Linked DNA regions of Homo sapiens: all the other regions are reported to be linked to region 2. The links are microRNA targets in miRTarBase. Many come from high-throughput screens and were not tested one by one. Region 2 holds a microRNA gene; each other region holds the end of a gene's coding sequence.

The links. Region 2 holds the annotated microRNA hsa-miR-4524b-5p (AUAGCAGCAUAAGCCUGUCUC, at 3,398-3,418, opposite strand). A microRNA usually pairs through its seed, bases 2 to 8, with sites in the 3' UTR of a target mRNA and lowers its output. Matches are read on the target gene's strand: a 7mer-m8 pairs with bases 2 to 8, a 7mer-A1 pairs with bases 2 to 7 and ends in A, and an 8mer does both.
Region 1: the mRNA of GNAT1 is a reported target of hsa-miR-4524b-5p. Seed matches in the 3' UTR shown: 7mer-m8 at 1,360-1,366.
Region 3: the mRNA of ASCC1 is a reported target of hsa-miR-4524b-5p. The part of its 3' UTR that is shown has no 7-base or 8-base seed match.
Region 4: miRTarBase lists HCFC2 as a target of hsa-miR-4524b-5p. The part of its 3' UTR that is shown has no 7-base or 8-base seed match.
Region 5: the mRNA of FAM229B is a reported target of hsa-miR-4524b-5p. The part of its 3' UTR that is shown has no 7-base or 8-base seed match.
Region 6: the mRNA of LANCL1 is a reported target of hsa-miR-4524b-5p. Seed matches in the 3' UTR shown: 7mer-m8 at 3,873-3,879.

The regions. Positions count from the first base shown.
Region 1 is chr3:50,193,918-50,199,031 of GRCh38, reverse strand. GNAT1 (G protein subunit alpha transducin 1) reads right to left here. Exons shown (of 9, transcript NM_144499.3): 6 at 4,811-4,940; 7 at 4,378-4,531; 8 at 4,076-4,267; 9 at 1,336-3,764. The coding sequence ends at 4,077. Among named protein-coding and RNA genes, the nearest start is that of GNAT1, 4.9 kb to the right of the region's middle. RefSeq lists enhancers at 3,533-4,064, 4,117-4,632, 4,621-4,680, 4,633-5,114 and a silencer at 4,251-4,310.
Region 2 is chr17:69,097,874-69,102,987 of GRCh38, reverse strand. MIR4524B (microRNA 4524b) reads right to left here and starts at 3,446; the gene lies at 3,332-3,446. It overlaps ABCA6 (ATP binding cassette subfamily A member 6), which reads left to right. Exons shown (of 39, transcript NM_080284.3): 21 at 20-153; 22 at 2,054-2,191; 23 at 4,961-5,068. It overlaps MIR4524A (microRNA 4524a), which reads left to right and starts at 3,356; the gene lies at 3,356-3,424.
Region 3 is chr10:72,093,292-72,098,291 of GRCh38, forward strand. ASCC1 (activating signal cointegrator 1 complex subunit 1) reads right to left here. Exons shown (of 10, transcript NM_001198800.3): 10 at 2,741-4,159. The coding sequence ends at 4,043. Among named protein-coding and RNA genes, the nearest start is that of SPOCK2, 7.2 kb to the left of the region's middle.
Region 4 is chr12:104,102,541-104,107,540 of GRCh38, forward strand. HCFC2 (host cell factor C2) reads left to right here. Exons shown (of 15, transcript NM_013320.3): 15 at 419-3,984. The coding sequence ends at 733. Among named protein-coding and RNA genes, the nearest start is that of NFYB, 33 kb to the right of the region's middle.
Region 5 is chr6:112,100,360-112,105,473 of GRCh38, forward strand. It overlaps FAM229B (family with sequence similarity 229 member B), which reads left to right. Exons shown (of 4, transcript NM_001033564.3): 4 at 311-2,431. The coding sequence ends at 428. Among named protein-coding and RNA genes, the nearest start is that of FAM229B, 15 kb to the left of the region's middle. RefSeq lists an enhancer at 1-673.
Region 6 is chr2:210,430,286-210,435,399 of GRCh38, reverse strand. LANCL1 (LanC like glutathione S-transferase 1) reads left to right here. Exons shown (of 10, transcript NM_006055.3): 9 at 1-13; 10 at 837-4,149. The coding sequence ends at 913. All of the region lies in intron 2 of LANCL1-AS1 (LANCL1 antisense RNA 1), which reads right to left. Among named protein-coding and RNA genes, the nearest start is that of LANCL1, 44 kb to the left of the region's middle. RefSeq lists an enhancer at 4,879-5,114.

The sequences.
Region 1 (5,114 bases), not on the chromosome of region 2:
TGCACTCCAGCCTGGGCAACAAGAATGAAACTCCGTCTCAAAAAAAAAAAAAAAAAAATTAGCCGGGCATGCTGGCATGCAGCTGTAGTCCTAGCTATTCGGGAGGCTGAGACAGGAGAATTGCTTGAACCCAGGAGGCAGAGGTTGCAGAGCCGAGATTGTGCCACTGCACTCCAGCCTGGGCAACAGAGCGAGACCCCATCTCAAACAAAACAAAACCCAGAAAATAACAAGAGTTCACAAATATGTAGAGGAAGGGGGACCACCTGTGCACTGTTGGTGGGAATGTAAAATGGTACAGCTGCTGTGGAAAACTGTTCCTCAAAATATTAAAAGTAGGCTGAGCGCAGTGGTTCACACCTGTAATCCCAGCACTTCGGGAGGCCGAGGTGGGCAGATCACTTGAGGTCAGGAATTCAAGACCAGCCTGGCCAACATGGTGAAACCCCATCTCTACTAAATACAAAAATTAGCCAGGCATGGTGGTGGGTGCCTATACTCCCAGCTTCTTGGGAGACTGAGGCAGGAGAATCACTTGAACCCGGGAGGCAGAGATTGCAGTGAGCTGAGATCGTGCCACTGCACTCCAGCCTGGGCGACCGAGTGAGACTTCATTTCAAAAAAAGGGGTCAGGTGCAGTGGCTCACGCCTGTAATCCCAGCACTTTGGGAGACCAAGGCAGGCGGATCACCTGAGGTTGGGAGTTCGAGACCAGCCTGACCAACATGGTGAAACCCCATCTCTACTAAAAATACAAAATTAGCCAGGTGTGGTGGCACATGCCTGTAATCCTAGCTGCTTGGGAGGCTGAGGCAGAATCACTTGAACATGGAAGGAGGAGGTTGCAGTGAGCCGAGATCATGCCATTGCCACTCCAGCCTGGGCAACAAGAGCAAAACTTCGTCTCAAAATAAATAAATAAATAAATAAATAAAATAAAAATAGATTCACCATATGAGGCCGGTTGCAGTGGCTCACGCCTGTAATCCCAGCACTCTGGGAGGCCGAGGTGGGCAGATCACCTGAGATCAAGAGATAGATCGAGACCATCCTGGACAACATGGTGAAACCCCGTCTCTACTAAAAACACAAAAATTAGTTGGGCATGGTGGCGTGTGCCTGTAGTCCCAGCTACTCAGGAGACTGAGGCAGGATAATTGCTTGAACCTGGGAGGCGGAGGTTGCAGGGAGCCGAAATTGTGCCGCTGCACTCCAGGCTGGCGACAGAGAGAGACTCTGTCTCAAAAAAAAAAAAAAAAAAAAAAGATTCACCATATGATTTGCCAGTTCCATTTCTGGGTATACACCCAAAATAATAAAAAACAGAGGCTGGGAGAGAGATTTGTACACCCATGTTCATAGCAGCATTATTCACAATAGCCAAAAGGCAGATGTAACCATTCATCAATAGATGAATAAATAAACAAAGTGTGGAATATATACAATGGAATATTATTCAACCTTAAAAAGGAAGGAGATTCTGCCATATGCTACACATGAATAAACCTTGAAGACATGATGCTAAGTGAAATAAGCCAGTTGCAAAAAGACAAAGACTTCATGGACCCACACATCTGAGGCACTTAGAGCAGTCACATTCATAGAGATGGAAAGTAGAATGGTGGATGCCAGGAGCCGGGGGAAGGCAGGAATGGGGGGTTATTTTTTCATGGGTACAGAGTTACAGTTTTACAAGAGGAAAGGAGTTCTGGAGATGAACAGTTGCGGTGGTTGTACAACATTATGAATGTACTTAACACCACCAAACTATACACCGGCAAGTGGCTGAGATAGTAAACTTTATGATACATGTATTTTTAAAACTGGCAAAAAATCCCTACAAACATATAGCAACAAATAGTTTTCCCTTTGCTTCAAGCCCCAATATATCTTAGCATGCCTCTGTTTGATCCTCTGTTGGATTTTGATATTTCATTCATTGTGGGGTTTTGCATTCATTTGATTTTTAAAAATATTATCCTAATATTATTTACCTTGGTTACTAAATTTTTTGGCATCGCCTTAAATGTTGCACCCAAGGTGAGTGTGCCTCACTTCCCTCACCCTAATCCCAGCCCTGCAATTATGTTCCTGCCTCGAGGGCTTCCAAGACTCTCCATCACCTTCTGAGAAAGCCCAGGCCCTCCGACTGGCTTTGGGCACCTGTCCACGTCTCTCCTCCCCTGCTCTTGCTCCACTGAACTCCTGTGGCCATAAGCCCATGTTTCTGGGGCTGGTAGACACTACGGTCCCTGCCAGAATGAGCCTCCACCTCAAAACTCCCTCTTGATCCAAGACTGTCCCAGTGAATATTTTCCACAGCTCCTCTCTCCTCAACTCCCGTGAAAAGCCATGAGTTGGTCCCATACCCCCAAGAGTGCCCCACCTTGTCAGGCCAGGTACTTCTTCCTGGGAGGGGCCATCTTCCCACTTCATGCCCAACCCAGCACTGGGCACTTAATAAATGCCCATGACTTGTGATAATTAAGTCCTCCACCAAGAAAGGACAGCTGGAGCCTGATGCAAAGGTTTATTGCTGAGTCTGTGCGTCTAGCTGAGGGGAGTGCAAATTGTGCCCCGGCCTTGCCAGACGGAAGCTCCTTGTCCCCGACTGCAGCACAGGCCCTGGCCTGTGGACATAAGCAAAGATTTGGTGCTGGATGAGGAAGGAGGGAGCAGGGATGTGGGGACATGGGCCTTTGTCCCTGATAGTTCAGCCATGGCTCTCAGCTTCCCCTGCCAGGGAACCCTGAATGGAAGGGGCAAGAGAAGCTGCTGGTAGGGACAAGAGGGTCACCCAGGTTTGCTTGTAACCCCACCTGAGGTAGACCCTTTTGGGCACAGCCAGGGCCTTTGTCCTATCCTGAATCCTCTGGGCTGATCCAAGGGAGCTGGACTCTGTCCCCAGCCACCCCTCAGGACAGCCCAGCTATTGGCCATAGCTGGTGTCAACAGTACCCTCCCTTAACCCCTTAACACACCATCCTGTTGTCCAACCAGCCCAGGGTACTGTGTGTGGGTGGGGAAGTGGTGTGTGGATCTGCTGTCCAAGGACACAGGGAGCAGATCCTGCTGGAGAAGGCTGGAGGTTGCTCTGAGCCTAGTATTTGGGGAAGGGTCCTGCTGTGTCTCACTCTGGCACCCAAGGGCCCCCAGGTCTGCCCCCTCCCCACTAATTTATTTATGTGGGGGCCACACAGGCCAGAGCTAGCTTGGACTTTGGACCCTTTGGAGGCTGCTGGGAGGGACAGTCACTGGCTCTGGGTAGACAGGTGTCAAACTTGTCACATGGAGGTGGCAGGGTGAGCAGCTGGCCTGTGTGTGGGAGGGATATTCCCTGTCCTTGATGAAATACTGGGAGGGAGGGCTGTTTGCTGAGCCCAGGCCCACCAGGTGAGTCGTGGGCCCCCAGGGGCAGGAGAGCTGCGGGAGATTGGTCAGTTGGGCACTGCTGAGTCACCGTGAGCTTCAGCTGCCCCAAGTCCTGCCCGTTCCTAGCTGGGGCTGGCTGCTGTGAGTCCTAGAGGCCAGTGCAGCCGGGCGGTGAAGGGCAGGGCTTGGGGTTGGGGGCATGAGGCGCTGGGATACTGTGGGAGGTATGGGGGAGGGTCCGCGCCTCAAGGCTAGCAGGGCTCAGAGCTTTGGTGAGGTGGCAGGTTGGGGCCAGGGAGTCCCAGGGGGCTGATAGGGTCCTGGGGTTTGGGGCTGCAAGGCAGCTAGGGCTACCAGGTCTCAGGGTGACTGACACGCATGAATTCAGGCACCTGTGAAAAGGAAACCCAGTCAGCATCCCTGAGACCCAAAATAAATGGGTTTAGGCATTGTGTGTGGTGGGGCGGCCCTGGAAGCTGTGACACCTGAGGTCTTGGGGCGGGGCCAAAAGAAATTCAATGGGTGGGACTTGTGGGGTGGGGCGGGGCCTCTGTCGGTGGGGTGGAGCCTGAGGAGCTGGGGTGGGGCCTGGAGGCAGTAGGCTCCAGGATTTGGGGGTGAGGCTCCAGGGCCGTGGTGTGGGGTGGGGAGCTGGACGGGGCTGGGGTATTGAGGCAAGAGCCTGGAGAGGGCAGCGACCTACCTCAGAAGAGGCCACAGTCTTTGAGGTTCTCCTTGATGATGATGTCGGTGACAGCGTCGAAGACAAATTTGACGTTCTGCGTGTCGGTGGCGCACGTCATGTGGGAATAGATCTCCTTCACGTCGCGCCGCATGTTGAGCTCGAGGAACTGCACCTTGATGTAGTTGCCGGCGTCCTCGTAGGTGTTGGGTCCTGCGGGGGCGGGAGCTCTCACTCTGCTCAGCCCTTCCTTCCCCGTGCGGGGGGTGCGCGCCGCGATCGTGGGGCGGGGGCGCCGCCTGGCGGCCTTGCGGACTTCTCACCATCGTAGTCCGGGAAACAGATGCTGAGGTGCGCCTTCTTGATCTTCTCGAAGAAGACGTCCTTCTTGTTAAGGAAGAGCACGATGGACGTCGTGGCGAAGTAGCGGTGGTTGCAGATGCTGTTGAACAGGTGCAGGCTCTCGTGCATGCGGTTCTGAGGAGGGCAGCAGCTGTTGGGCACCCGGGGTAGCGTCCGACCCGCAGCACCTGCTCTCTGGGCTCCCGGGCACGCGGGGCTTCCCGCTCAGCTGGCTCTCAGAGGGCTCCCCGCACTGCCCCAGATGGGCCTGCTGAACGCCTCCGGGCCTCCTCAGGCCGCCCGGGACAGGCATCCCCTCCCGTGCCCTCCCCCAGCCCAGCGCGCGGTCTCCGCCTCCAGGGACCAGCAGCTCCTCCTCGCCCCCCTGGAACACAGGCCCTGCCTGGCACGCACCACTTCGTCGTCCTCCACTAGCACCATGTCGTAGGCGCTCAGCGCCGCGATGAAGATGATGCAGGTCACGCCCTCGAAGCAGTGGATCCACTTCTTGCGCTCCGAGCGCTGCCCGCCCACATCGAACATCCTGCGGGGCCGCGGGGGCCTGAACCTGCGCCCCGGGCCCCACAGGCAACATCCCTTCGCCCTGTGCTGGTCGGGGAGCTCTCGGCCGGGACTACCACCCTTTCTGCTGGCGGGGTATCAGGGAAGGGGCAGGGTCTATCGCAGGGATGGGGTCCCCGGGGCAGGACGGGGCCTG
Region 2 (5,114 bases):
CTTATTAACTTCATATTAGAATCAAATATTGAAGATTTTATAAAATCACTGAAGCATCAAAATATACTTTTGGAAGTAGATGACTTTGAAAACAGAAATGGTACTGATGGCCTCTCATACAATGGAGCTATCATAGTTTCTGGTAAACAAAAGGTATGTTTGCCTTTTTGCTTTTATGAAAAAAACAAAAAGTACTACATTTTAGCTGTTTTAAAACTGCAGAAATTAAAGCTAGTATACAGAAACTTGACTCAGAAAAACATTCTGGGTTGTTATTTAATAAACTGTGAAGTTTACCTAAGTTTTTGTAAAACATTTTCTATCTTAGTTTTGTTTTGAATTAGATAACTTTTACATTTGAAAGGATCTAAATTTAATTGTACTGTTTAAACTCAATAAAAATATTATAGCTTATAATTATCAACCAATATAATTATGGATTTAAGGAATTTTATTCAGTAGCTAACTACCTGAATAAAGTTTGTTTTTATATATTGAGAAAATACATTAAATACTATAATATCTACACGAAATAACTGAGAAAAAAGTATTCTCAGTCTGCTACCTTAGCATATGTCGATTTGGGTAAAAGAGTCAAGCCATAGAGATTCATTAGAGAACAAGACTATTGAAAATACTTTTTTTGAGGCAGAGTCTTGCTGTGTTACCCAGGCTGGAGCTCAGTGGCAGTATCTTGGTTCACTACACCTCTGCCTCCCATGTTCCAGTGACTCCTGCCTCAGCCTCCAGAGTAGCTGGAATTACAAGCAGGCACCACCATGCCCAGCTAATTTTTGAATATTTGGTAGAGAGTGGGTTTCATCATGTTGGCCAGGCTGGTCTGGAACTCCTGACCTTGGGTGATCCTCCCGCCTTGGCCTCCCAAAATGCTGGGATTACAGGCATAAGCTACCGTGCTCGGTTTAAAAATACATCTTAATGTTAAGAACTCTTCAGTCTTATTTGCATTCTAATAAAAGCAAGGGGCCTAATTAAGTGAAGCTCCCTCTTTATTTCATGCTACAAAGTAAATTTTTAAAAAAGAAAAGCCTTTGAAGTTGTATTACTGAATTCCGTTCTACATAAACTAAATATGCTATAAAAAATGTAATCGCTTTGTGCCAGTTTTGGGAAATTACTTTGTCAGCTACTACGTTACATACCTCACATATTTACTACATGAACTAGTGGTAAGATTTAAACAATAAACCTTCTAATAGATTAATGAACATTTTCCTAAACATGAAGTACATAAATATAAAGATTGCTTTAGGAAGTGGGGAAATGCTTCTTTGGCAGGGTAAGGATGAATATTTAATGAACTCCATGCTTATCTCCTATCCAGAAGGCCAGCATTCCTTTGCTGCTGCTGCTGCTTTTTTTTTTTTTTTTGAGACAGAGTCTCGCTCTGTCACCCAGGCTGGAGTGCAGTGGTGTGATCGCAGCTCACTACAACCTCTGCCTTCTGAGTTTAAGTGATTCTTCTGCCTCAGCCTTCCAAGTAGCTGGGATTACAGATGTGTGCCACCACACCTGGCTAATTTTTGTATTTTTTAGTAAACATAGGGTTTTGCTATGTTGGCCAGGCTAGTCTCAAACTCCTAACCTCAAGTGATCTGCCCGCCTTGGCCTCCCAAAGTGCTAGAATTACAGGTGTGAGCCACCATGCCCAATCTTCCTTTGCTTCTTCATCATAAACTGACAGCATCTCCTTGTCAGGGAGACTTTTAAACTCTACTAAATGAAATTTCCCCATCAGCAAAATGGAGACAAAATTATCTAAAATTAGTAATACAAATAAAAATTCATATTGATTGTATGCTGACTCTGTGCTAGAGCTTAATGTACATGAATAGAGTGTCATTTAAGCCCTATAACAACCCATTTAGTATTTCCTTTTCATAGATGAGGAAGGTAAAGCTCAGAAAGTTTAGTTCACTTGAAGATGGACACACAACAAGCATGTGGCACTGTTAGGATCTTTTATACATAAACCTTGCCTTTGTTCTTTAAGAATTTAGCATTAACATTATTTATTTGTTTCTGTTTTAAGGATTATAGATTTTCAGTTGTGTGTAATACCAAGAGATTGCACTGTTTTCCAATTCTTATGAATATTATCAGCAATGGGCTACTTCAAATGTTTAATCACACACAACATATTCGAATTGAGTCAAGCCCATTTCCTCTTGTAAGTATTGGATTTACTGAGTCTAAACAATTAAGAATTGGACAAATAGCCTATGTTTTCTCTCTTTAGCTTTTAAATATCCATAAGTGATTGTTAAGCCTGAAAATTATTATTTTATCCTAATATTTTCAATGGGTTATAGCAAACAAAACAGGATTTTTTTTTCCTGCCAAGTTATCAGATAATTATCGTGAGGGAATACTTTTCAATATTTTGTCAGTCTTCTAGGCAATGTTTTGAAAAGTTGTACATACTTGATTGTGGAAGTGTATGAGAAAGAGAAACAGAAAAAAGAAAACACTGACTTGGAAATCAGGAGAACTTGTAACCCTGGTTACATATAAATCTATTATAATTAGTTAGTGGACCCTCCATTGACTAAATGTGTAGTAGACAGACTAATATGAAGGAGAATCTGCCAGTTCTGGGGCTATCTGTTGATTTATTTATTCACCTACTCATAGTTGCTCTATGTTGTGAGGGAGCCTAATACACACAGGCTGCATTGGATTCTGTGTCAGTTGGCTATAGTCTGGCTTCAGACAGTTTGGACACTAGAAAGCAGTGGTGGGAGACAGAAGAGCAGAGGACCCCCTACATTGGGCTCCAGTCACATCACCTCCTTCTGCTGTTCCTGAAGCCCAGAAGCAACAATAGCTTGCTTCTCACTTCACCATCTTTGTGGGATGCTCATCACCCACCTAACCATGTCATAAGGAATTGCACTCTAAGAACTTAACGTAGTCATGGTTTTCTGGTTAGACCCTGCCTGATACCAACAGGGGTGTCTCAAAGCTGACTCCAACTGTTTCACACCAGAAGTCTGAAACATCAAGAAGCAGGATTAGAAATGAAGCCATCCAAAGGGAAGTCCATTTTGTGACAAAAGTGTGAAGCTCAGTTTTGGCTTCACTGAATCAGTGGTGCTGGGAGTATATGCAAGCACAGGTTTTCTGTAAGCCATGGGAACAATGGGGATGAAATATACAGTACTTGAGATGTTCGTGACAGACACATACCTCCGTGAGTTGAGTATGACCGACTGATCACGTAAACAGGTCTGCTGCACAGGATGACTCGAGGGAAGGGGTGTCTGAAGGGAATTCTCCAGAAAGTGGAACCAGAGGAGTAGCAGAAAGAGACAGTGATTACCCTTCCTCTTTGGAACGATAGCAGCATGAACCTGTCTCACTGCAGAATTATTTTGAGACAGGCTTATGCTGCTATCCTTCAAAAGAACACATCCACCCAGCTACTGAGGTTTCCATCTCTGGGTTTGCTCAGAAAGACATGCTGCTCAGGCCTGAATTATGTGTTCATCAAAGGTCCTAACTTCTGAATTATTAGCTTCCTAATGCCATTGTGTTTGCTCAGGATCAAAATGGACTGAAGCCCATAGCTACTCTATTAGAAACCTGTTCCCCACTCCCACTTCCCCATGGCACACACCTTTCCTCCCTCATTCCTATGATGAAAAACAGAATTTATAGACATAGCCCTCAAAGTCTTAAATAAAGTTAAATAATTGTGGAATTATTTTGAGACAGGCTCATGCTGTTATCCTGTAATTATATCCATGAGGTGGTCCTAGATGCTGCTAGAGTGTCCACTTGGCCTAGCCTCAAGTGGATGCTGATTTGGGGGTAGTGATTTAAAGTTCCTTTCCCTGAAGTTAAGACAAGCAGCAACAAGTTTTCTTCTTGGTTCTGTGCTTCAGAACACATCCACCCAGCTACTGAGGTTTCCATCTCTGGGTTTGCTCAGAAAGACGTGCTACTCAGGCCTGAATTATATGTTCATCAGAGGTCCTAACTTCTGAATTATTGTTTTTTTGTTGTGGTAATAATACATGATATAAAATTGACCATTTTAGCTGTTTGCAAGTGTACAGTTGAGTAGTATTAAGTATATTCACATTGTTGTGAAATGCATCTCCAGAACTTTGCCGTCTTGCGGAATTGAAACTCGATGCCAATTAGCTTTCCCCCTCCCCCATCCCCTGGAAATAACCATCCTATTATGTTTCTATGAATATTACTAGTTTAGAAACCTTATATAAGTGGAATATTTGTCTTTTTGTAACTGGTTTATTTCACTTAGCATATTTTCCAGGTTCGTCTATGTTGTAGCATGTGACAGGATTTCCTTCTTTTTTTTTTTTTTTTTTTTTTGAGACCGAGTTTTGTTCTTGTTGCTCAGGCTGCAGTGCAATGGGGCGATCTCTGCTCACTGCAACCTCTGCCTCCCAGATTCAAGCGATTCTCCTGCCTCAGCCTCCCAAGTTGCTGGGATTACAGACATTTACCACCACACCTGGCTGATTTTGTATTTTTAGTAGAGATGGGGTTTCACCATGTTGGTCAGGCTGGTTCAGACTCCTGACCTCAAGTGATCCTTTTTAAGGTTGAATAGTATCCATTGTTTGTATATACATACACATTTTGTTAATCCATTAATTTGGACTTTTGGGTTGCTTCCACTTGTGAGTATTGTTGGTATGAATATGAATGTGAGGGTATCTCTTCGAGAGCTTGCTTTCAATTCTTTTGGAAATATCCCCAGAAGTAGGTCCTAAATGACTTTTGACTTCTCTTTGTTCTTTGAGTTGAAGATCAGAGTCACTTTCCCTCCCACCTTCGTGCCTAGATGGTAATGAGCTACACCTTTACTTTGATTTTTCAACATTTCAAAAAGTGCATTTTTGTGGCTATAATTATTTGTTTCATTTAACAAATATTCACTAGTTTAAGCTACCCTTTATATTTTCAGAGCCACATAGGACTCTGGACTGGGTTGCCGGATGGTTCCTTTTTCTTATTTTTGGTTCTATGTAGCATTTCTCCTTATATCACCATGGGCAGCATCAGTGATTACAAGGTAAGAAAAAGCAGGGAAAAGAAGAAATTTCAGGAATTTCAATATC
Region 3 (5,000 bases), not on the chromosome of region 2:
GAGACAGTGTCTCACCATGTTGCCCAGTCTGGTCTTGAACTCCTGGGCTTAAGCAATCCTCTTGCCTCCCAAAGTGCTAGGATTACAGGTGTGAGCCACTGCCCCCAACTTTAAGGAAAATTTCTTAACCTTGTTAAGCCTCAGTTTGTAAAATGGGGACAATATTACCTACTTAAGTGGGCTATTGTAAAGATTGAATTAATGCACAAAAAAATAACAAATGTGAACACTCCACTAACATTAGCTATTATTTGTGAAAAATTTCTTAACTTCTCATATTTTATATATGTCTAAATGTATAGGGAGTAGTTACCTCTGGAAGCTAACATTTATTTTCATTTATTATTTATTTATTTATTTATTTATTTATTTATTTATTTTTGTAGAGATGGGGTCTTACTAGTTTGCCGATGCTGGTCTTGGACTCCCGGCCTCAAGCGAACCTCTGGTTTCAGCCTCCGATTTAAATTGAAGTATAACACACAGTGACAAAAGCACAAAGCATAAACTTGATTATTTTTCATAAAGTAAACTTGTCTTCATTTAAAAGGACATTTTACAAAAAAAAAAAGCTATTAATAAAAACCATAACGGCAGCCACTTTCATCACTTCTAGCAGCAAGAGCTTGAACATTCATGCTCCCTATGGTATCGAGATGGAAGCTGACAGGTGTTCCATTGACTCAACTCAATACACCTCTAGTGCCAGTGGGTTCCCTTGAGCTCCAGGACAGTGAGCTCCAGCACAGTACAAGGGCAAACAGGAACCAAATCTGAATTATTACGATGCTGGATTCTACTCAATGCCCAGTTTTGGAAACTCTAGAGCTTGCTTTAAAAATAATCATTGTAAGAAACATTTACAATGTGTCTAAAATAAAAATTACTCTCCATAACAAAGTTCCATGTATAACAACACAGATTCTGTGAAGTAGCGAGTGAGAGATTTTTTTCCCTCTTCCTCTTAAGAGAAATTGAGGGTGAAGTCAGTGCCTCAAAAGCTGGCTGGAGCAGTGTTAGGTACAATGAACTATTTCAGTGTAGAATGAATTACAAAACAGTAATATGAAGGAAGGTTTGATTGTAAGCACAGCAGCAGCAAATCCTCCAACATTTACCCCATTATCATTTGGTGAGAGGGGAACCTTAACTCTAACCCTTTTACTGTTGTTGCTCTCTACCATTTTGCTTTTTCATAAAAGTTCTACATCAAAACTGTTACTCCCTCTTCCACAACAGCACTGAAAACTGTATTTCCTTAGAGCTATACTGTCCCCAAAATTGGAATACAGACTTCATGAGAGAATATTTTATCTCTGCCTACCACAGCATGTGAAAAAAAAGGAATTTTTTAAAATTTAAATGTTAAAAATTTTCCAATTCTACCAATACCTACCAACTTACAAAACTCTAGAGAACTCAGAAATACACAAACACACATTCCATTAACCACCAGAGTGATGATGCTGTCGCGTCATAGAGCCTCTGGAAAACCCCACTGTATAACTGGTGAGAGAAACAGAGGGAAAAAGGCAAACAACTTGAGAAGAATTACTTAACAAGACATAGGGAAGAGTAATCACTAAATCCTCAATAACACAATTTCCAATTCTATTTAGAATTTGGTATTTGGGCCCAGTGTGGTGGCTCACAGCAGTAATCCTAACACTTTGGGAGGCCAAGGCAGGAAGATGTCTTGAGCCCAGGAGTTCGAGATCGGCCTGGGCAACACAGTGAGACCCCATCTCTACAAAAAATTTTTTTATAAAAAGTAGCCAGGCATGGTGGTGCACGCCTGTAGTCCCAGCTGCTCGGTAGGCTGAGGTGGGAGGATAGCTTGAGCCCAAGAGGTCAAGGCTGCAGTGAGCCATGATTGCGCCACTGCACTCCAGACTGGGTGACAGAGTGAGACCCTGTCTCAAAAAAAAAAAAAAAAAAAAAAGAATTTGGTATTCAATATATAAAGCTAAATTTTCCAAAGACAAAAAACTTAGAAAAAAAAGTTTCCTACAAATGTTAAGTCATAAGTCTCAGAAACTCAAAAGAAGTGACATTTACTTCCTGGCTGAGGTTGCCCAATGGCTTGTCAGAAAGAAACCGAGAGAGAGGCACATCAAGATGAGATGGGGCATTAACTCCATAGTCAGCTTCAGAATTCAGCACTGTCCCTGGAGCACTCATTCCCAAGTGCCACCTAACAACAATCTGAGGTGAAGTAAAATCTCAATTTGTATAGAAAATGAATATCCGTAGAAAGAGGAGGCCTTCTGGGAAAAAAATCAACCTTGCGGCCAGGCACGGTGGCTCACGCCTGCAATCCCAGTACTTTGGGAGGCTGAGACGGGCAGATCACGAGGTCAGGAGATTGAGACCATCCTGACTAACAAGGTGAAGCCCCGTCTCTACTAAAAATACAAAAAAAAAAAAAATTAGCCGGGTGCAGTGGCGGGCGCCTGTAGTCCCAGCTACTCAGGAGGCTGAGGCAGGAGAATGGTGTGAACCCAGGAGGCGGAGCTTGCAGTGAGCCGAGATCGTGCCACCGTACTCCAGCCTGGGCGACAGAGCGAGACTCCGTCTCAAAAAAAAAAAAAAAAAAAAAATCAACCTTGCAGGTACTAATATGTAAGTCCTCCATGAATGATCCAGCTATGCTGGTAAATAAGTGAGGGCAACATTGTATCCCAACACAGGAAGGGGTCAAATTCAAACTATGTGAACTATGTGATCATACTAACAGAAACACCGTTAAACATTTTATTCACAAGTGATTTGTGCAGTCCCAATAATAAATCTCACTGTTAGACACAGTCCTCACAATGTAGCAACTTAACACAGAGTTCAGAAGTGCAGTTAAAGAATATAAAGAGAGAAAGAATCAAGGCAAGAATAAGGAAGGAGAAGAAGGAGAGGACATGGAGGGAGGAAGAATGTGAGGAGGCAGGGGTGGGAGGCTGGGGCTCCCCAGCATTCCCGCCTCCCTCTGCTGGTCCGTGGTGAGGGAGGAGTGAGGGCCTCCTGTGGCTGACATTCTTCCAGGGAACTCTGCACAGTCCTGCTGATATCATCAGTTTCTTTTGCTGCTGCCTTGAAAAGTAAACAAAAAAGGGCTGCAACACTGCAACTCCATCAGGGGCATGGGAAGATGAGGGTGGGGATGGGGTGAAGGAACAGGAATCCAACAAATATTAAGAGGACAAACTTTGGTAGGAAAATGATAGACCAAGCAAAGTAAAAGGCAAACAACTTTAATGGTTATTTTGCTAAAGATAAAACTCTGGGTGGTAAAGGAATTAAAGGCAGAGTCTCAAAGAGATATTTGCACCCCCGTGTCTGTATTAGCACTACTCCCAATAGTCAAGAGGAAGCAAGCCAAGTGTTCACTGATGGAGGAACAGAGTGTGGTACGCACATGTAACGGAACATTCCATTATATGTATAATACAGGAAGGAAATCCTGTCACCTGACACAACATGGATGAACCTTGAGGACATTATGCTAAGTGAAATAAGCCAGTCACAAAAAGACAAGTCACTGTATGATTCCACTTATATGAGATACTGAGAATAGTCAAAACCAGAGAGACAGAAAGCAGAATGGTGGCTGCGGGGGCTGGGAGGAGTGGGAATTACTGTTTAATGGGTACAGTTTCCATTTTACAAGCTGAGAAGCCTATGGAGATGGACGGCGGTGACGGCCACACAGCATTATGAATGTATTAACAGTTAACGTTACTGAACTGTGCACTTAAAAATGGTGAAGACAGTATGTTTTATGAGTATTTTACGACAATTTAAAAATTAAAAGAAAAAAAACCAGAACACACTAAGGGTTATAGGCACAAATTCTCCTTATGCCCACCACCATCTCAGCTGGTAGTATGACGGGTGTAGACACCATTAGAGGCAATGGTGAATCTATGGGGAACCACCCAGGAAAGTCACCATCCAAATGTCCACATCCCTGCTTGGCAATTAAAACGAAGACACTTTTCTTCAGCACCTGGTGAAGATGTTTAGTTTCTAGTGCTTTCCAAGATCCACCTCAGGAGAAGTCAATTTGTCCACAGGAAGCGTAGTTTCCAAAGCTGTCTACGGTGAACCTCTGAGAGATGTGAATTGAATTCAGCTTTAGGGAGCCAAAGTAGAAGTTCTCAAACAACTGAAAAGGAAGAATAAAAACCCAGAATGAATATTTAAAGTATAGATGAAAATATTAAACATCAGATTATCTTGTAAAAACACCAAACCACAACAATCCCAACAAATCTCTCATGCTTTTTCTTTTCAGTGTTTACTCTGAATAATGATCCAGGAGAGGAGGGATGGGGGTGGGAGTGAGAAAAGAACAGCCAGCTCTTCTCTCTGATTAATTCTAAAGTCTCCCCTGACAAATGCACCAGAGAAAGAGGTTCTGAAAAGTCAAATCCGAAATTCATCTACTGACCAGATATGACCAAGAACTTATAGCAAACGCCCCATGGCCACACCCTGACTCACAGAGTCTGACCAGGCTGCTTCTGACTTCCAGTGACTGACCATGCAGGGATCTCGGCTTTGTTGCACCAGGGTTAAATTTGACGTAACATATATCTAATCAACGCCATTTGTTAGGAGCGCTGACTAAAATAAATAGAAGATAAGGCTCCTGACTCACAAGTGATTCAGACAAACCACTGAGGGACACAGAGCATGCACACACACACAGAACAACCCAAGGGACACTTCTACTGCCAACAGAACAAGTACAAGTGATTACTTATCAAATACCTTTATTAGACTTGGATTCAAGCCAGCGACCTAAAATAAATACTTTTTGCTATGATCCTGTACTTTACAAAAGCTTTCAAAAGTGTGTCAGAGTGAGGGATGAACCATACATACTCCAAGAGGGACTGGACTTTGTGATTACCACATTTATAAGGCAGGACCCAAAATGACATCAGAATTCATCCCAGGAAAATGCAGCCATAGTGCCTGAATAAGGAGCGTCAAAGAGTAAA
Region 4 (5,000 bases), not on the chromosome of region 2:
TTACAGCATCCAAATCACAGAAAGGCAGGGAAATCTGGTATGCTTCTAAATTTGTTCTTGTTATTATGGAACGAAAACATTTGGCTGGAGAATTTTAATAGAGCACTCGAAACTGGATTATATTTTATCCTAATGTCCTGTCCCTCCCTAGAGATTGTTTAGGAAATAAAAATCCCTGTTTTGGGATATTACAGGCAGACATTTAAACTTAGTTGTGTTTTTGAAAAGCAAGCATGAAATTAAACATTGTAGATCCAAATGAGGTAGGTTTTAAAAATCAACAATAAAAGATGTAACATCTAATGCAATTATTTTAGTAAAAATGAACATTTTGTATTCTAAAGATAGACTCAACATAATAAGTGATAACAGAGGAAACTTAAGAACCTTTAACCTGTTTTTTCCCCCCCCCTTCAAGAATGTTGAAGGTATCCACCTTTCCTGGGAACCTCCAACCTCACCTTCTGGAAATATTTTGGAATATTCAGCCTACTTGGCTATCCGCACAGCACAGATACAAGATAATCCAAGTCAACTTGTGTTCATGAGGATTTATTGTGGTCTTAAGACATCATGTATAGTAACTGCTGGGCAACTTGCAAATGCACATATTGATTATACATCCAGGCCTGCCATTGTGTTCAGGATATCAGCAAAGAATGAAAAGGGATATGGACCAGCTACACAAGTTCGGTGGCTTCAAGGTAACAATAAGAAAGCACCTTTAAATTGAATTGGTTTTTTTACTGAAGCTATTGTGATGATGATTATTTATTAGTAACTGGTTATGAAGATTTGTCATTTAAAAGAGTATTCTCTGGCTGTATTTCCAGCAGTTATGAACTTGAGTTTGTAAATTGTTCTTAAAATGTATTTGCTGAATTATAGATCCAAATAAAAGAAAAGAAGCAAAGACTCTCTGAAAATTAGTATATGAGTTCTTCCTTACAGATATAGCTCTTTTATAAAGAAAAACAGTGAAATTAAGATAAAAGCTAGAAAGCTTTATTACCCCAATATCTTTTATAAGGGCTGTGTAACCCAGTCATCCTAGAGTTATTGAGATGATTCTGGTAACTGGCTGTTGTATACTATGCTGTCTTATATAGTAAATGTTCTCTACATTGTAAATGTCCTACCTTTGAGTACTCCTTCTATCTTTATTCTATATGAGCAGTGTTCCTCTAACAACTGTCTTCTATTGGATAATATGTGTGATACTATAATAATTCTAATAGTTATTTGATTCCTTTCTTTGTTTACAGTTAGCACAGAGCTTAAGAAATTAAAAAAGAGGCAAGTTTAGAAACTGCTTTTGAACTTTTATTATTTTCCAAGAATCATGGTAAAATACAACAAGAACAATGAGTTTTCTTGATTCTTACCAGGCCAATATATTTGAATATATTTTTGGCCAAAGCACTTAACTTATCTGGCCCTCATTTTCCTCATAACAGATGAGGGAGTTAAAGCAGTTTATCTTTTAGGTCCCTTTCAGCACTAAGGTTTTGTGTTTTTAGTAGAAGTGAAGTATGTCCCTGAACATTTTCATCTGTCTTAATGGCTCTAATTTTGCTTTTGCTAAAATTAAAATCTTCATAATTGAATTCAAAATTAAAGTATATGTCCTCCTATTGGAGAAAAAAACAAGCACCTTAACAGGACACAAGTTTTAAAATAGTGTTTTAAACATTTGTAAGATTTTTGTAAATGCTCTAAATGTTTTATTTTTGCATTGTTTTTACCTTGAAATTGTATAAACTTTTTTACTATGAAAATATAAGCATTAGACAGCTAACTCAGGTTCCATTACAACCTTAAAGATACAGATAGGCATTATAAACACTCTGCTACAGGTAACTTGTTTTAAACCTTTTAGGAATTTCATGGTTCCACTGCCTATTTAAATCTGGAATTAATATACAGAGCAATAATTGCAGAAAAGATATTTCAAACTAAGAGCTTCAATAACTGCAGGGGCACAGGTCTATCTTTTTTTATACCACATAACCTTATGCCAGTTTAGGTTGACTGAGTAGCTATGTCCTCAAATTTCATGTATGATACCCCCCAGCAAAGATGGATTTAATTGTGCAGAATTGATATATATGTGTGTTCCAGTTACTAATTTAAAGTGTATAGAATATTTTAATATATAATTTTTGTAAAGAACTGGGATTTTTATACTACAGTATTTGTAATTAATGTGTCTCACTAATTAAGTTTCTCTTGAAGAAAATATGCAAATTGTTAGACACATAATGAGTGGTTTCCAAACTCTAAAGATAAAATAAATGCACTACTATGGTGTTGTTAGAATACCTTTTTTGTGGCTGTATGAATCTTTACTCTTTAAATGTGTACTTTACAATGTTTACAAGGAGCTTCTCTGGTTTGTTATCCCAGCAATGCCCTTGGTGAGAGCTTCATTCTGCATTTGTTTAATTCATATGCTTTGCTTTTGGCATATGCTTGCTTTTTGCACTAGTAGAATTTTAACTTACCTCATTATTATGTTTGTAATCATTTGTCTAGCTTCTGTAATGTATCTGATATAGGCTAAACAAATACTTAACCAAAGTTAAAATACATGGTAAGCAATTTTGCACATATTAAATATTAGGGTTTGTTGTGTATATGTGTATACTTAATTATAAAAGAATATGAATGGAAAGTTATACTAAAAGTATATGTTTCAAGCCCAGTTATTTTAAAGATCTATTGCTTTAATAGAAAAAGTTTGGCTTTTAACCCTTTCTTCTCTGCATTAATTAACAACGTGCATCTTGAAGCCCTTCTCCTGATAACAAGGAATAAGTTGATTTTAAGCAAAGGATAGAATATTTGTTTGAGTGTGCACATTTATACCTGTTTAGTATTTGATTCAGTTAAGCCTCCACTCTTCTGGATCAGGAGGTGATTCTGAACCTGTGGTTCTAACATATGACTTAACTGTTTAGAGGGAAGAGAAGTCTTTCTATACTGAGGGATTTGTTAAAATCATAAATGTTTTTGCCCTGAGACTTAGCCCAGATTCTATTTTTTTTTTTTTTTTGGCATTTGTACATTAAGCACCAGTCATATTTATCTCTGTGATAAGGGATTGCTGACTAAAAAATGCCATTAAGAAATCTCTGTGGCTTTGACATTAGTAGTTAATAAGAGATCTTAGAGCTGTGTGCTGATGAATAGAATGAATTGGAGCAAATAGCAAGAGAAGTGCATTTAGCTTCTTATGATTTGCACATTTTCTAAATGAAGATCCCTTTGTGTAGCAGTAGGCTGTATCATGCAGATATTTTTCATAGGATTTGCACTGAGTTAAATGACTTTCTTTACTCTTCCCAGTCAGGTAAGCAGTTCAAATATAACAAGACTTTGTGCCAGTCCTCTTCTGTGTTCTGCAACTCTGGCTCTCATAAGTAGTAAAAATATTTTTGATGTTGCATGCTCTCAGAATTATGTTTTCTAAAATATCATATTGGCTTCATTTTAGTTTAATAAACTTCTTTGGCAACTTAATTAGACATAGGGTATATATAAACTCAATTTTATCTGCATTTTTTAAAAAATTGAAATAATCTGATTGCATGTATGAAGGACTCCTGCCTCATTACCCAATTACATAAATACAATTATCTATAGGAAGGTGAAATTGTTGATCTATTATTTCAAAGACTTGTAGACTAGCAAAGATTCATTCTGATTAGAAATAAGGTCTATAGCTAAAGATATTTTTATTTTAAAAAATTACAGCCCTTGTAACAAAAATCATTTGTAACATTGGATATGAAGACATTATTAGTATTTAAAATTATTGTAGTCATTTGATCATAAATGAAGTAGCTTGCAAAATAGACTTGGTCTTTGACCCTTTAAGGTGTAACTGACTGACTGTTGTGTTTTTCAAGACTGATTTTAGGCAGTTTTATGTATCGTGTACCAATGATATGTAAAATAAAGCACCTTTTCTACTATAAACAATTACAGGTGTTATTTATTTTGAAGGATATGAAAGAAAAGTTAGTGATGGCAGAGTAAATCTGTAGAAATGTTGATTTTATATTTAAAATAACATTATGTAAACATATTAAACATATATTAACATGTTTAATAATTAATATTTAATAATTAACAAGTTTAATAATTGTTAAACATATATTTAAAAGGCTGCCTGTATTGTTTGAAATAATATAGGCAGCCTTTAAATTAAGAATGGATTGTGTTTAAAAACTTGTTTTTAAGTTTTTAAGATGGCAGTTGGGAGTCGTTTTCTCATAGAAATGTAAATCCTATGTAAGTAACCCTTGTCACACCTGAACTAGTATGCTTGAAAGTAAAAAGGCAAATGGCTCCAAGAAATAGTCTAAACTTGTTGTCACCTTTTTTTTGTCTTTCATTTACTCTAAAATATTTTTCTTTATTCTTTTCATCCTTTTAAATTCATAGCAGCCAGACTTCTGACCTGCTGCTCCATTGAAATGGCTCTAGCAAAGTTCAAGGATAACCTCCCATTTCCCAAATCCAGGGAACTCTTTTATCGTATTTAATCTTGTCATTTGAAACTTTTGTCCACTGTCTCGGCACTTCCTCATTTTTGTAGTGTCTATCATACCATGCTTTCTGTCCATCTTTACACACCTCCTCCTGTCTATGGTTCCCTTTTTTACTCCCACCTGTCCCCATTCATTTTTTTTCCTAGATTCAGGCCAAATTGCCAATCTGAAGAAGTCTTTCCTGACATACTCCACCACCAGGTAGATTTAACCCCTTCTTTTTGTTCTCCCACTGTCCTTTGTTAAATCTTCTGTCATAGCAGTCTAAAAACTTAGCGCCCCTATTTGTTAGCATGTCCCTCTCCATCTGCTAGATGGTAGGTCTTCAAGGCAGAGACTGGGTCTTTATACCCGTTCCATGTTGGCTGGCTAGTTAACTGGTACTTAAATATTTTAACAAGCGGGTAAAGAAAATTGTCACCTTTACACTTCTTCATATTCCCA
Region 5 (5,114 bases), not on the chromosome of region 2:
TTGTAACTATGCACTTTTGTTTTGCCATTTAGCAATCATTGCATACCTTTCAAAATCAACATCCGGAGGATTATCTTTGAATATATGAATTTCCTGTGATTAAATATGTACGTCAGAGGCCACAATTTCTTTGTTATATCCATCTAAAATGGGTGCCTCGTCAGCATCACCATGTTGTACTCATTGTATGACATTCAGAGATTTCAAAGTGATTTAAAACAGTTAAATATACAATCAAACTTTGGTGCTCTGAAAAAAAATATTTCCTCTTTTTAGTATCTAACTACATGTCATCTGCTTTTTTATTCAGGCAACTCCGGAGGTGCCCTGGAAGTCATTGCCTGACAATAACTGATGTTCCCGTCACTGTTTATGCAACAACGAGAAAGCCACCTGCACAAAGCAGCAAGGAAATGCATCCTAAATAGCACCATTAAGTCTTTTGTCAAGGTCTGACTAGGTCAAGGGTAATGGACCAGTATCATCTGGTGATCTGGTAAACAAATAAAAGTGGTGGCACCTTTAGATGATGACAACAGTTGAGCTCTTTACTTTTAGTAAGACCGACAGAAATGTAGTCAGTAAAGCACATGTAGTGATAGGCTATCAGTTATGTCTGATACATAAGACAGAATAATATTTCACAATTAGAAAGTACCTTAGAGATCATCTTGCTCACAGTAGATCATTAATATCAATAATTAAAGATGAAGCTTAATCCACCATGGTCATCAGTCAGGTGGGGCTTATTCTAAATGCTTAATGTGTCTTAAGCTCATTTCCTTGTTCATATTTGGGTTGCTACTTGGCTAAATCCTTTCACCTTAGTACCCTAAGCCAGTTTCCTGGCTTGATACTATTTGATAATGCTCTGCTCAGGAATGATTATATTGGGTGAGAAATGGAGCCCTGGGGTTGTGTGTTTTGGAACAGTATTCAAGATCAAAGAAAGTTCTTAGTCCATGGTTAATCTGCAAGGCATTTAAGCCACTTCCATAGAGGAGCCCAGATTGTTGGTTAAATATATTGATAATGAAGTCAAAGCTGTGGTTCCAACCCCGATTTTTCCAAGAAAAATGACGTCTGGTTATCACTTTGTACACGAAGTGCTAACCAGGTATCTTGATAAATTGTTTACAGTAGGTATTGAGAAACCTCATGTGGATTTTTTAATTTGGTTAGATGTGGGATCACTTTTGAGGATGAGGCCAGCTCTCTATGTTCTCTTTTTCTTCTTGCAGTAGTCCCCAGAAACTCAGTCTGCTTTCCTTTTCTCTCGATGGCTGTCAGCACCCATCTAATGAAATTGTCTTCTCCAAAAGACTGACTTTAGGATCAGATACAATTTTCACCAGTGTTTTTTGTCTACCTTGCTGCTTCTGAAAATATACATATAAGCCTTTTAAAATGAAAAGTTTATTAACTTATAATTAAATAGACGTAGATGCATATGTGTTGCATTAGGTGAAAAGAAAAACTGCCAGGGAGTTATAAGAGGAAAAACTCTCAGAGCTCACACTGAGCTGGGAGAAGTTTGAATGCCAACCAGTTAAAGTGGAAAGATCTTGAACATGTGGGGCATTGAGTAGAGACTCAGAAAGGTTGTACTTTCATAAGAGATCCAAACTGGAGCTAGACTAAAGGCTAATGTATACCAATTTTAAGAAAGCTTAAAAATAAGCCTTGAGAGACTCAAGATGATCTCTAAGTAACCTCATTTTATCTGCCAAATAAAAATAGAACATTCCTTAAAGGAAGAAAACAAAATCGAGGCAGGAAATTGCCTGAGGCTGGAGAAAAAATGACAGGAAGGAGAAAGGAGTGATGAAAAATTCCTCAGAGGGCTGGGCTTGGTGGCTCATGCCTGTAATCCTGGCACTTTGGGAGGCCGAAGTGGATGGATTATCTGAGGTCAGGCATTCGAAGCCAGCCTGGCCAACATGGTGAAACCCCGACTCTACTAAAAATACAAAAATTAGTCGGGTATGATGGGCAGGTGCCTGTAATTCCAGCTACTTGGGAGGCTGAGGCAGGAAAATAGCTTGAACCCAGGAGGCAGAGGTTGCAGTGAGCTGAGATTGCATCACTGTGCTCCAGCCTAGGCAACAGAGTGAGACTTTGTCTCAAAAAAAAAGAAAAACAAAGAAAAATTCCTCAGAGCTCATACAAGGCTGGGTAGAATATGTGTTTCAACAATAGTGGATCTTTTAATATAGTACATGGATCATTGAGTAGAGTCTTCAGCAAAATATTGGCAAAGTAGGGTTAGGGTTAGGTTAGGGAGATGGGAATAGACTGAAGACTACTCTGGACTTGCCCTAACAGAGTTTAAGAGCAACATTTGAAAGGATCAAACTGATTTCAAGTAACTTGAGTGCATCCAAGGGGAGAAAACCCATCAAAATAAAAATAAAAACTACAATAAAATCCAGCACCAAAAGTGTAACATTCACAATGATTAGCATCTAATAAAAAGTTACCAGGCATGAAAAAAAAAAGGAAAAGGCAATCCACAGTCAAGAGAATCTTTAGTCAATGGTAATAGACTGAGAATGACAGATGATGGCATTAGTAAATGATATGGTTTGGCTCTGCGTCCCAACGCAAATCTCATGTTGAATTGTAACCCCCAGTGTTGGGGGAGGGACCTGATAGGAGGTGACTGGATTATGGTGAACACCTATATGGATATGAATATGGAGTATTCTCCATGGATATGGAGAACACCCCTTGGTGTTCTCATAATAGTGAATGAGTTCTCATGAGATCTGGTTGTTTAAAAGCGTGTAGCACTTCCTTCTTTTCCCTCTGTGTCTCCTGCTCCACCATGGTAAGATGTGCTTGCTTCCCTTTGCCTTCTGCCATTGTAAGTTTCCTGAGGCCTCCTAGCCATGCTTCCTGTTAAGCCTGTGGAACTGCATCATTTAAACCTCCTTTCTTCCTAAATTACACAGTCTCAGGTAGTTCTTTATAGCAGTGTGAAAATGGACAAATACAGTAGATCAGCTACCATAAATATCGTTCAAGTAGTAGATAAAAACATAATGAAGAAATAAATGGAAGGTATAAAAATGACCCAAATAGAACTTTTAGAGATGAAAAATACAATATCTGAAGTAAGAATATACACTGAATAGGATTAAGAGATTAGATACTGGAGAAGAAAATATTAATGAACTTGAATATATAGCTATATAAATTATCCAACATTAAGTACAAAGAAAAAAGCGTATAAGTTTTGTGTTTCATTATCAAGCAGTCTAATATATATGTAAGTGGCTTCTCAGAAGAATGGAGGGGGATAGAAAAATATTTGAAGAAATAATGGTCAAATTTTCCCCCAATTTGATGAAAACTATAAACTCACAGATCCAAGTATCTTAACCAACCCTAAGGAGAAGCAACATGAAAACAAAACAATGACATGTCCTAATTAAATTGAAGAGAAAAATCTTAAAACTTGATAGTAAATGACACATGCATTCAGAGAAAGAAACATAAGAATGAGAGCACACTTTTCATCAGAAGATATGAAGGCAAAAAGGCAATGGAGCAGTATCTTTAAAGTATCTTTCAAAAATGAAGGTGAAGTAAAGACTTTTCAGCCAAACAAATGCTGAGAGAATTAATCACTAGCAGATCTACACTATAAAAAATGTTCAAGGAAGTTTTTCAGGCAGAAAGAAAATGGTACTAGATGGAAATTTGGATCTTTAGAAAGAAAGAACACAAGAAATGGAAAATATGTGGATAAATATATAGGCTTTAAAATTTTTTAAGCACTAATAGATAACCGTTTAAGGCAAACTATGGCAATGATATTTTATGTAAAAGTATAATGTATAATACTAGCAAAAAAACAAAGGAGGAGGAAAATAGAAGTTTACTTTTGTAATTCTTAGACTATTTGTGAAATGACATAATGGTATTTGACAATAGACTGATGAAGTAAAACTTGAGTTATCTCTAAAACCTAACAAACAGAGTTAGAGCTAATACAGTAGCTCTAATTATTGTATGGTGGAGAGTAAATGTAATAAATATTACTCATTTAATTCTAAAGAAGACAGGAAAAGAGGAAAGAAGGAACAAAGATAATACATTTAAACCATATGATATTGATATTTGCATTAATTACAGAAGGTCTAAATTTCAGTTAAAAGGCAGAGATTATCAGATTGGCTAGAAAAGAAGATGCAACTATGAGCTGTCTACATGAGCCCACCTTAAATACTAAGACTCAGATAAATTAAAAGTATAAAAGGATAGAAATAGATATGCCATGCAGACATTAATCTGAAGAAAGCTGGAGTAGCTATGTTAATAATAGACAAGAAGATTTCAGAGCAAAGAATTTACAGAGGTAAAGAGAGACAATTCATAATGATAAAGGGGTCAAGACATCAAGAATACCTAACAATCTTAAATGTTTATGCCAGAGCTTCAAAGTACATGAAGCAAAAACTGATGCAATTGAAAGAAGAACTAACTCCACATTTGTAGTTCAGGATTTCAGCTGGTAGAACAAGTAAACAGAATCAGTAGGGATATAGAGGACATGACAATTGATATAGAACACTTTACCTAGGAACAGCAGAATACTGTATATTCTTTTCAAGTGCACATGGAAAATTTACCAAGTAGAACATATTGTAGGCCACAAAACAAGTTTCAATAAATTGAAAAGTATTCAAAGTATGGAAGGGTAGGCAAAGTATGTCCTACAGTAGAATTAAATTATAAGTTAACAATAGAAAGATACCTAGAGAATCTCCAAATATTGGAATACTAAGTGATACACTTCTGAATAACCCATGAATAAAAGAAGAAATGACTGAATAAATTAGAAAGTGCTTTGAACTGGATGAAAACAAAAACACAGCATATCAAAATGCATGGGTAGCGCTTAGAGAGAATTAAGGCAATAAATTATTTCATTAGAAAAGAAGAAACATCTCAAGGCAATGATCTAAGCTTCTACCTTAAGAAAACAGAAAAAAATGAGCAAACTAAATCCAAAATAAGCAGAAAGAAAGAAGTAATAAAGAGCAGAAACAATGATATAAGAGCAGATAAATAATAGAGAAAATCAATAGAAACAAAAGCTGGTTCTT
Region 6 (5,114 bases), not on the chromosome of region 2:
TCTCTCTTTGAAGGTATTTTGTACACTTTATTTATTTGCCCTATAATATCAGCATCTACTTCTCTGCTTGGTAATTAATGTATTTAAGTTTTAGCAAAAAATTTTATAATTATTCTTAAACTACTTTTTTATTTCCTAATATGCTAAATCGATATTAAAAATCAATTAGCACATGTAATACCACAGTCCCAATACTGGTAGTCATCAGGTGACTCCCTTTTATGGAGCCAGGCACATGTTGGGCATTTTGCAGACGCCCTCATAAATCATTCAGCAAAAACATACAGGCACTACTACCTTCATGTCATAGCCGAGGAGACTGAGGCTCAGGAGCTTATGTTTGGTAAATGGCAGGGCTGTGACTTGAACTTGTCTGGCTCCATTCTTTCTCCAGTCTTCCACCGGGATATAAGGCTGAACACCTCACTAGTGATCTCTTCTAATGTTGAACTGCAGTGTATGTAAACGTAGATAGATTCACACTTCATTTAAATCATTGCCGTTAATATTGTAATGTTGTTAATGTTAAAAAATGGAGCCATCCTTCGTTTTTGCAGAGTTGTAACTGCTCTCGGGGGGTGTCAGTGAGGTGAGGAAAAAGCCATAGGATGCCGAAGGAGGAGGGCCAAGAGGACACCCCCACCCTCCAGTGCGGCCTTGATCCAGACCTTAGGGACGAGGCCATCACTGGTGGGCACCCTTTGTTGATGTTTGTGTGTTTGAATAGACTGAAATGCTGTGACTTTTTTTGTCAATAAAGATATGGGGGAAAAAGAACCATCCTATGAAATGGAGTCATTTGGTATAATAACTTTTGCCTCTTTCTCTTTCTTCAGGAATGGCTGGAACAATATATTTCCTGGCTGACCTGCTAGTCCCCACAAAAGCCAGGTTCCCTGCATTTGAACTCTGAAAGGATAGCATGCCACCTGCAACTCACTGCATGACCCTTTCTGTATATTCAAACCCAAGCTAAGTGCTTCCGTTGCTTTCCAAGGAAACAAAGAGTCAAACTGTGGACTTGATTTTGTTAGCTTTTTTCAGAATTTATCTTTCATTCAGTTCCCTTCCATTATCATTTACTTTTACTTAGAAGTATCCAAGGAAGTCTTTTAACTTTAATTTCCATTTCTTCCTAAAGGGAGAGTGAGTGATATGTACAGTGTTTTGAGATTGTATACATATATTCCAGAACTTGGAGGAAATCTTATTTAAGTTTATGAATATAACCATCTGTTACTGTTCTAAAAATGTTTAAAAGAAACTCAATACAGATAAAGATAAATATGTGACTATTATTGGGTATTACACTTCACTTCTCTTTAATATTTTTCCTCCAACTGGAGGGCAGACAATTTTCTGACTTGCTTTTCTCTAGGTGGTTCATTTTGAAAGGGGACAGAAATATAACTAAATGCTTCCAGGAGAAAAATTCCAAGAGTTACAATCTGGACTTGGTACCTAAATATCATTTTTTAAATTCTTGATGCCTATTTGGACTAGAGGTAAACATACTTTCAGATTGGCCTGTTTTTGTCGGTAAGGCATACAGCCTTCAGAAGCCAACATTTTTAATCAAAAACTTATAAAACATGATGATCATTGTGAAAATTCTGAGTTGAAGGTTAGTTTAAGATAAGCTAACAATAACAGTCTGTGTTTTCTCTAAAATAATCTGAGTTTTTTGGAACTCTTTATTTAAATATGTGTGTTTTTCAGTATTCAAATAAGATCAGGAAGCCAATTTTCTATGTATGAATATGCTTTAACCTAGGATTTCAGTCCACTCTGACTGACTTTCTAAACTTTAACTTGGGTTTTTACAGTGACTATGCATTAGTGCTGACTCTTTGGTATAAGCCATAAAATATTTTCCTTCCTATCAATTTATCTGAACTTTGGTCTTTTCACTAAATTGTACAGTATTCTACTTCTGTTTAAAAAGGGGAGATGAGAAAGGGAATACTATCTAACCAATAACTTGAACAAAAACACTAAACTAAGCATTTAATAGAAATGCTTTTTATTGAGGAGGTATTATCCAGAGTTCATGCTTAGAACAAATGCATCTTTGCGTATCCTAGACTTAACAATTCATCAGTTTCTGAGACCACAGAATCAGGTTTTCCGTAGTAGATAAAGACTCTCTGGTGCTTCAAATTCTGTTCAAGTGTTTTGACTCATCAGCTTCTACTCTTTCTATTACTGCCTTTGCCTGGCTTGTTTTGTCTCTTTGCAACTGATTTTGCAAAAAAAAATTGTAGCTTTAAAATAACAGGGTCTAAGTATTTTAAATGTGCCTATTTCACAGCTCTCTTGGTCACAAAAACATGCTATTTTTATTGGAACTTCAAACCAAATCCCCACTGAGTGTGTACTGGTTCCTGCAGGTAGCAGTCTCCTATTATCTCCTGTTTAGCACCAAAAGAGCTAATATTATTGGAAACTGACCTTTTAAAGGCCACTGGCAGTAGGATTTAAAAAGCAGCCCACTGCTCAGTTTCCAGGATCAGCTTCCTCCTTCTGTCACTTGTGTAAGTTGGCACTACCTTGTGCCTCTCAGATTGCTGAAGTGCTGCTGGTAAGCATGTGCATGCTCTGCCTTTCTTGTGAAAGTTTTCAATCAGCGATATCAGCACTTACAGTAAGAAGTAAAAGTAGTGCACAGCAAAGCTAATTTGCCTTTGCCTGGGGTGTTCAGCTTGAAAGAATAAAGCTCATTTGGTTTAGTTAAATGTCTTACTCTACTGTGCCTATGCTTTTAGCTGCGTTACTAAGCAAGGGAAAAATAACAGTTTCTCTGAGCCAGAGAAGACTTGATCACAGTTCTCCAAGCATCGTGATAGCAATGCTTAACCCCAGGAAGATTTCAAGGCAGGGAGAAGAACATTTCAAATAAGATTCTTGTTAACCCATTTATGCCTAGTGTTCCATTATTGGAATGCTAAGCTTGTGGGAGTCATTTACATCCTACTGCTCAAAGTCATTGCCAAGGTCTGATTTTTCACACAAAAAATTGCAACCCCCAGCATAAATGGGTTAGCTACTGTCATCAGTTAGCAAATTCATCCACACAAACACAATTAGAGTTTGGTTTTTTTTTAAGCTTTTCAAAACTTACTAAACTGGCACAATTTTATATGTATGCTATTTGTTGTATTTATGCTTAAGAGCAAAAAAGTTTTGATGGGATTTTAAATTCAGGCAAAGCCTACAACGCTGAGACAATCCCCTAACAACATGGTAGTAACTAAAGAAACTTTTATACTAGGCTTCTTAGTTTTAAAAGGAAGTGGCATCATTGTTTCAGTTCTAGTTTGTATTTTTCTCTCAGATATTTTTCTTCTTTAAAAATCTTTCCCAGAAGTTGGTTCCTAGAAAACTCAATACCATCATCTCTTATCTCTATACAGGGACTAGGTAATAAAACCTTCAAAGGTTGTCAAAGGTCATCAAGCAGTGTTCATTTATCCTGTCACATGTTTCTGTTTCTATAGTAATTTAGAAATTGCAAATAGTTAACTTTTCATCATGTAAAAAGTTAACATTATCCTATTTCCATAGATACCATGGACGGCGGTGTGGCCTGAGTTGTCAGTCTTTAATCCTGAGTCATGTGGCTCTCTTTTCATCTTTGATGTCAGTTCCAATTATTTGGCATCAAAAACCTTCATGGTAGGTAGAGTTTTAGGTAAAAGTGGATCTAGGGTTACTTTCTTTATTAACATTTCCTAAATAACTGAATTGAGAGACATACTCTGCTACTATGTCCTCAGGTTAATTTTTGTCTGATCTTACGATGCCCTGCCTTTTACTAGCTACTTTAGAAATAGAAAATGTGAAGAGTGACTATTTACATGTATACTCCTTTGGCTGCTAGAACTCATCTGTAGTCCTTTATTATTTACACTGAATTCCAATTTCATTTCTGCTTCCGCTAAGTAAGAGCACCTCATTCCTGTGTTTTCTCTACTATTGAGCTGTAGACGAACTGTTTCTCTAATTATAAAGCAAACTGTTTGGGATATTCAGGGAAACTACCCCAATGTTATGTTGTCATTTAATGGGAAAGGCTGGGATCATATGTATTTCTATGTTCTGTAAAGTATTTGACTTACTAGTTCTCAATAAAATTTTATTAGGACTATATATCATCATGTGCTTTTTGTTTGCTTTGGTTTAAACTTGAGAAATATTTTCCCTCAATGGCAAGTTATTGCGGGATCTGGCCAGCAGCCCGCAATGCAACGGGGCTCTCTCTTTGTTCCCAGGCAGATTGGTAGGTTGAGAAATAATAGACTCACACAAGATAGTGAAAGCCGCGTCCAGGGGGGTCACCGCCTTCTGGTTCTGCGGTGCCAACAATGCGCTGGATATACCAGCATTTATTATTAAGTTTAGTGAGGGCAGGGGTAGGTTAGTGAGGAATTTAGGGTCATTTGATTATGAGGTGAGATGGTCACGTGGGGATGAAGTAATGCTTTAACATAACATTTGTATGCAGAAGTACAGTATACAGGGATAAGAATTTACAATATAGTGTGTGCATCAGTAATTTCTAACAGAGCCTTAAAACAGAAACACATTCTTTCCATAACCTATGATTAGCAAGATATTAATCAGCAGTAACAGTTGCAGCAAAAGCTGGTTACAGACAATCCATAGAAATAGGACGTGAAGCTAGACAACTGGTTAGACCAGAAATTCTCAGAAGGGAGTATGCCTTAACCCTAAAGAGGCCTAGAAGAGCCATGGCAAGATGAGGGCATTTATAGCCCTATCTTATCCATATGGACAGGCGCCCCCCCATGCGTCCATTTATAGGCTCTCCACAAGGGTCGCATTCCATTCCCAGAGCTATGAATATCTGCTTTTCTGGGATAGGAATCTTGGTGATGATGTGAAACCTCCCTGACTGCAGATCCATTCATAGGCTATCTGCAGGGGGAAGCACATTACATGCTGTTGGCTCATACTGGCAGTCCAACCTGGCATTGTCTTTACACAATCCTGCATGCAACTTTGTATTTACAATAATCAGGAGCATTTCATCTTTTATTCCGTAGCAGTAGTTTCAGGGGGTTCTCCCTACAGCAAGTGAAGGTTTTTTTTCC